2 linked regions of the Homo sapiens genome follow. The protein of the gene in region 2 purifies or fractionates together with the protein of the main gene of each other region. This does not show direct contact. Each region holds a gene or a part of one and is shown on either strand. Other genes may lie near its edges. The genes, in order: NUDCD2 and RCBTB2.

What was found.
Region 1: the proteins of RCBTB2 (region 2) and NUDCD2 purify together in Homo sapiens (affinity purification with mass spectrometry; 2 studies listed by BioGRID and IntAct, with this or other methods). This does not show direct contact.

What each region holds. Positions count from the first base shown.
Region 1 is NC_000005.10:163,450,026-163,453,853, forward strand, and holds part of NUDCD2 (nudC domain-containing protein 2), read right to left. Parts: 3' UTR 1-3,828. UniProt on the Homo sapiens protein: May regulate the LIS1/dynein pathway by stabilizing LIS1 with Hsp90 chaperone.
Region 2 is NC_000013.11:48,508,790-48,512,617, forward strand, and holds part of RCBTB2 (RCC1 and BTB domain-containing protein 2), read right to left. Parts: intron 3,386-3,828; coding exon 3,227-3,385; intron 3,089-3,226; coding exon 2,981-3,088; coding exon of another isoform or gene 2,888-2,980; exon of another isoform or gene 2,369-2,887; intron 1,983-2,368; coding exon 1,840-1,982; intron 1-1,839.

The sequences.
Region 1 (3,828 bases), on a different chromosome or scaffold from region 2:
GGCAGATCCGTTGAGGTCAGTTCAAGACCAGCCTAGCCTATATGGTGAAATCCCAACTCTACTAAAAATAAAAAATAAAAAAAAAATGGGCTGGGAGTGGTGGTGCACACCTGTAGTCCCAGCTACTTGGGAGACTGAAGCACAAGAATCACTTGAACCCAGCAGGCAGAGGTTGCAGTGAGTGGAGATTGTGCCACTGCACCCCAGCCTGGGTGACAGAGTGAGAATGTGAGTCAAAAAAAGAAAAAAGAAAAATTCCTCATGACCTGGGGTTAAGGTTCCTAGACATGACACCAAAAACATGATCCACCAATGGCATGATGGATAAGACTTCATCAAAATTAAGTCTGTGCTTCAAAAGACACTATCAACAAAGTAAAGAGAGAATAGGAGAAATTACAAATCATATACCTGGTAAGAGACTTGTACCCAGAATATATAAAGACTCTTACTACCCAATAAGACAACTAAAAAAATGGGTAAATAATTTGAATAAACACTGCTTTAAGGAAGATACACAAATAGCCAATAAGCACAAGAAAGAATGCTCAACATAGTATCAGAGAATAGCAAACCAAAACTAGATAGAGATCCCATTTCATATCCACTAGAGTGACTAAAATCAAAATGTCAGGTAAACAAGTATTGGCAAGGATGCAGAGAAAATGGAACCTGCATACACTGCTGGTGGGAAAGTAAAAAGATGTAGCTGCTTTGGGAAACAATGACAGCTCCTCAAATGATTAACATAGTTATCATATAACCTAAAAATTCTACTCCTAGGTAAGAAATGAAAACACATATGCACATAAAGACTTGTACACGTTTATAGCAGCTTTAGTCAGGACAGCCAAAGGGTGGAAATACCCAAAATGTCCAACTTACAAATGTATAAACAAAGTGCTACAGCCATACAATGAAGTATTTTCAGACATACTAATGAATGTGCTGATACATGCTCGAATATAGATGAACCTCTTAAGACATGTAAAGTGAAGGAAGCCAGTAACCAAAGACCACGTATTATGATTCCATGTACATGAAATGTCCAGAATAAGGAAATCTATGAGATGAAAAGAGGTAGTATGGATGGCGGGGGATGACAGGAGAAGGATAAAAGCTAAACTATACAAGGTTTCTATCTGAGGTGATGAAAACATTCTAAAATTGATTATTGGAATGGTTGCATTTATCTGTGTATATACTAAAAGCTACTGAATTACACACCTTAAATGGGTGAAATGTATGTTGTTACAATAAAGCGTTTTTCTTAATTATATATGATCCCATTTATAACATGCTTGAAGACAAAAATATGGAGATGGGGATTAGATCAGTGGTTTCCAAGGTTTAGGGGCTGGGAGTAGGGTGTGTAGAGTACAAAGAGAGCACGAGAGTTTTTACGGTGATTGAACTCTTCAATACTCTGACTGTGGAGGTGTTTACACATATCTATACTTAAAATTCACCAAACCATACACCAAAAAAGTTAATTTTACTTTACTCAAAAAATTTTGTTAAATGTCAAAGAGAATAAAATTAAAAGAAAAATAGCCTCTTCCCCCGACAATTCATTCCTAAAATGAGCAAGATAGGAATCACAGGGTGAATGGACTGCCATGGCCTGGAGTGAGGTATTAGGGTCCAGGCAGGATGAGGAGGACATTCCTGCTCAGCATAGGATGCGAAGCCTAAGCAGGGTGAGGAAGACATTCATGTGGGGAGATGACCTACAATAGAGAATCAGGCCAGGCGCAGTGGCTCACACCTGTAATCCCAGCAATTTGGGAGGCCCAGGCGGGCGGATCACCTGATGTCCGGAGTTCGAGACCAGCCTGACCAACATGGAGAAACCCCGTCTCTACCAAAAATTAAAAATTAGCCAGGTGTGGCAGCGCATGCCTGTAATCCCAGCTACTTGGGAGGCTGAGGCAGGAGAATCGCTTGAACCCAGGAGGCGGAGGTTGCAGTAAGCCGAGATCGCGCGACTGCACTCCAGTCTGGGCAACAAGAGTGAAACTCCACCTTAAAAAAAAAAAACCCCACAAATAATCAAATAGGAATCAGGTTTCTCACTGGTACTGAAAACGGTTATAAATGTGGAGAAGGAAAAAATGAAAATGAAGCCCATGGGATCAGAATTTATATGTGAATTCATGGTTTTCAATATACATAGATGCAGAAATATAGATGTAAAGACATGCATTATATATACACACCAACGGCAATTGCACACTAGCACAGATCTTGGCTTTTAAATATTACTCACTAAAGAGAACCCAGGCTCTACGGAAAAATGGCTGATTCTTGGGTTAGGTCGAGGACAGCATGAGAAGCCTGGTATATCTTATGCCAGAGAGTAACAAATTCATTGAATAATGATGGGAATGTGTCAGAAGGACACAGAGGCCACCCAGAATGGACTTCTACCAGCCAAATGTACAATAATTTTGAGCACCAATGTAATGATAATAGGTTTTTTAACCTGCTGAATAAAATAGAAAATAATGAGTTTATAGAGATACGATAAATTTAAAGTCTGATCAGAAACAAGGTAGTATTTTGCAACTATCTTCTCAAGAAATAATTATAAAAATAACTACAGTGGAGAAGTCTGGCAGACACTACCTTAATCAGTCATCTAAGAAACACCATCAGAAATGAGACAAACTGAAATTATTAAACAATGACAGGATGCACTTCTATCACATTCCTGCCAAAGATGAATAACCTCAATCTAATCATGAAGTATCAGACAGAACTCAAAATAAGGGGTGTTCTACAAAACTAGCCCATAATTGTCAAAAGTACTAAGTTGTAAAAGGAAACAAATGAGAATTTGTTCCAGAATGAAGTAAACTAAAGACAGCTGACATCTAAATGAAAGGCATGATTCTGACTGGATCCTCTTGCTATATGGACATTATTGGGACAATCAGTTCAATGTGAATGAAGTGAAGATCTGAGGATTAGAGGGTAGTAATGTGTCAACGTAAATTTCCTGATTCTAATGGTTGCATTGTAGTCATGTAAGATAATTTGAAGCAGATAGTAATCAGTAATGAGGAATCATGTCTTCAACTAAATCACAAATGGTTCAGAAAGAAAAAAATTATCTGTAACTTTTCTATGCATGAGATTTAAAATTTTTTCAAGAGTTAAAAAGGGCAAAAAATAAAAAGGACATAAATAGGATATTGAATAAAATGTCTATAGACAATTCCTACCTATATGCCTAAATCACTTACAATCAAAATGATGCCACTGATATACAATTAGTGACCTTACTTTGCTTTCTGCCACAAAGGACTCACCTAATTACCATGATCACACTTCTCTTTTGTGTTAATCCACTTCTATTGTTAGGGTTTTAACTATTTTTAAACTTCTTGACATAAAGTAATCCCTCAAGTAATAATATTCTAATTAAGAAATTTACATTAACTCTTAATTTACTTAAAATACATTTATGGACTTTTTCCTTTATTAAAATTGTTTTCAGCACTATAATTTTGTGTGAATTGTTATACTTAGACAAAGGGGTACACAATTCCTATTTAGAAAATTTTATTGAATATCATACTTATCAAAAGAAAAAGTTAATTTTCCCCAAAGGCACCCTTCATTTCACATGATCTATACTCTAATGTTCTTTTGTATTAAAAATATGGTTAAATATGGAATTAGTAAAATGCAGCATATAAAACTTCATGCTGAGCAAAAACAAGTCCAAAACAACTTTACCATATATCCATAGAATAGTTCCCACAGTACATTTCCTATGTAAATTATGTTTGAATGCAATTTTTAGAACCATTTTAAGATACA
Region 2 (3,828 bases):
GCAACTTGGCACTCACACAGCTTCCATTCCCATTACCTGCTTCTCTGCTACTTTTTCTTTCTCCCACCTTGACGCCCCACAATCCATCTGCCCCAGTGAGAACCTGAATCAGAAGCCTTGGGTGATCATTCTGGATCAGGGACCAGCAGTGCAATGCAGCAAGTCACTGGTGGGCAATGACGGCAGATTCTGTGAGACCAGGGATGGATGTGCTAAAGTTCTGGGTAAGTGTAGGAGCACCATAAAAAGTAATGGGCCAGGCCAGGCGCAGTGGCTCATACCTGTAATCCCAGCACTTTGGGAGACCGAGATAAGAGGATCACTTGAGCCCAGGAGCTACCAGCCTGGGCAATGTGGCAAAACCCTGGCCCTGCAAAAAACACAAAAATTAGCTAGGTATGGTGGCATGCTCCTGTAGTCCCAGCTACTCCAGAGGCTAAGGTGGGAGGATCGCCTGAGCTTGGGAAGTCAAGACTACAGTGAGCCGTGATTGCACCACTGCACCCCAACCTGGAAGACAGGGAGACTGTGTCTCAAAAAATAAAAATAAAAAAATAACAGGCCATACAAATCCATCGTTTTTATTTCCATGCCATCTTTATTTGATCCTTTAACTCTGTTTTTCAGTTTAAATGTTAAGTGTCCCTACCAACTGAGGCACTTTTGTGGTTATTCAAAGCCTCAGGACTGTCCCTTCTCTTCTGAGGAGCTCTAAGCTACAAGATGTGTGAATGAACAGCTGCAGGCATCTACCTGCACCACCTCCTGCCTCCATTATTGTCCCTCCTCCCAATTCTGAAGGGGCCAGGGGTCTTAAATTTTAAGGTTTTTGGAGAAAAAAGTTTTATTTAACCTATAAAATTAACCTATGTTAAATTGGTTAAATAAAACTTTTAAAACATAGGTTAAAGAAAGTCAGCCAAGTTCACAATACCCAAATGAAAACTGAGGCAGTTGAAAAATGACAATTTGGTTCTTCATTTTCATTGTTAAGTATTCCAGCAGAAAATTAGAAAAGAACTGCATATAAATGTGAGCTAATCTGTTTGTCTACATATTTCTTTTAAAATTAAATATAATAAAGATATATGCAGTAAAAACAGCAGCATTCATTTCTACAATGACTGCAACCCTGGTTTAAAAGAAAAGATAGTGAAACGTTTTTGCTCTACACTACTATCAGGAAATGAAAAGTGGAAAGGCAGTGATCTGACCATGCTTGAGAAATTCCAAAGGCTTTCAAAAATATCAGAATAACGTGGAAACTAATTCTGGATGTGCTAATTACATAACACAACCTTGCAAACAAGTGCACAAAAGTAAATCTTAATTTCCTAACCATTTTACTCTTCCTCGTAGTGACAGCTTGGGAGTTAAAGTAATGAAATAACCCTATCCTTCTCAACTGGCAAATTTCCATGTAGCTGAGTGACCAGCTTTATACCCCATGCAAGGTACCTTTTCCTAAGCCAGGGAAGAGCGACCTTGAATGTTATTGACACCCCCTTAAGAATGTAAAACAGGAAAAGGAGGAGGGCAAAAGGGTGATTTGTAAGGCAGAAGAGTAACAGAATAGCTGTTGCAAGTTTAGTCACTGCAGTTTGCTTAGAATAGCTGTTGGAGGTATAGATGAAACATGGGTAAGTGAAAATAGCATATTTAACATACAATCAACCTCCCCAACAATTCCAAAGCCAATTTTTCTAAAGGAATAAATACTCTTGTTAAATAATATTCTAACACTAGCAGTACATTCCCCACCATTCTCTATATATCTAAGTCCTGTTTAATCACAATCACCAAAGACCAGTGTGGGGACTGTGAAAATGCCCGTGTTACCTGTCCTTTTCCACAGTGACAGGAGTAGGATAGGACTGGTTGCTTTTATTGCCAGTGCCCAACTGCCCATAAGAATTGGCGCCCCAAGCATACACTTGGCCTTCATCTGTTAATACTAATGTGTGTGCGTAGCCACAGGCGACCTGGAAGGAAAAAAATCCACTCAGGACTGCAAATATAAGTAATTATTTCACTGCTTCCACAAAGTAGGTTAAGAATCAAAAATGAAAAAAAAAGGAAGAGGCAGCCTACCCGTAGGAGAGGCAAGCATTAAGTTAACCAACATCCTTCCAGAACATGTGGGCCAGAATTGCAGTAAGATTGCCATGAGTACCCTGGCGTGAGCACCTGCCCCAGTTCACTAGAGCTTTAATACTCACAGAAATCAAGGGGTATGAGGGGAATGTAAGAAACAGACACTTGTATTTTTTAAATAATTATTTTCTTTTTTGATTATAAAAGTAAAACATGTTCAATTTGAAAAATATAGAAAAATATAAATATAAAAGTACTCTGAATATCAGAGGCATTTTTTTTCTATTTCTATATAGACATAGAGATATGTACCTATAGCATTTTTTTACTGACCATGTTGTATAAGCAGTTCTGTATCTTGCTTCATTTTACCATTACACATAGCAGTTTTCCATGTCATTAAAAATTCTTTGTATACAATACATCATCTCCAGCATATATACTTGGCATAATTTATCTAATCATTAACTTACGATTTGATTAGTAAATTCTGTTACACCTATTTTTTTTATTAAAGTTATCCTCTTTTTATATGTATATGTATCTTCTTAACTAATTCTGTAAGACAGTTACAGGAATTGTTGGTTCCTCAGGGAAATTCCCTAGGAGTAGAACTACAGGTCAAAGGGTATAAAAGCTTTTAAGCTTCCTCAGGAAAGCTTGTAACAATTTATATTCCAAAAGGTATGTGACAGTGCCCTGGAAGAGAAATTTTCTGAACAGCTGCAATTTAATTCAAGGAAAAAGAGACTTAACCTTTACTTTAATGAAGACATCCAAGCAGCTAAACTTTTCATCCTGCCAACAAATCTATGTTTTTAATACATTGATATCTTTGCCAGCGAAGACTTAAAAATACACGCACACAAACTGACAGTGGACGTACCCTCTGGACACGGATGCCTTGCAAAGCTGCCACTCTGCAAGGGGTTGGCTGGTTGCCACTGTTGCCGAGTCCAAGCTGCCCGTTTCCGTTGTAACCCCAGACATAGACCTGAGAGAAAATGAGACCCTCAATCCTCTCAAGAGACAAATGGCCAGCAAGCTGTCTGTTATGTGGGACATACCATACTGGCATGAGACTGATGTGGCAAACACGGTTTTTAAACAAGATGTAAAATAACTTCCTTACCTCCCCCGTGTCTACTACTGCCATGCAGCACATCTGCCCACATGCTATGGTCACAACTACTTTATTTTGTAGGCAGCCAGTGACTCTTCGAGGGATTGGCTGATTAACTGTTGATCCAGATCCTACCTGCCCAGAGTTATTATAACCCCAGGCAAATACCTGTTTAAAGGAAAGATCAGTAAATGAAACAGATTAATTTATAAACTGTCTCAACTGGACACTGACATGTACTTGTGGCACCGAGTCTTTCCTCTCAAAGTGCTTCACATTCATAAATCCTCACAACACAGGCAGAGAAGTGTTTATAAAATGCATTCTTATACAATGTACATGATTTTATACAATTAGGTTATTGGTGTTATCTATACAAACAGTAATAATTACTATTAAATAAAATGTAACACAAAAGTATCTACTTTGCCCCAGCCATCTTTTCCAGCATTTGGGGATTTTTCTTATTGCAAATAACCTCTTTACTACAGCAACAGAGAAGGAACAATACCTCCTTTTAAATTTTGCAATTATGGAAGACCTTACTACGTACAGGTAAATGTCACAACATCAACACCCTGACTGTGAATTGCTACCAAAAATAAGGCTGA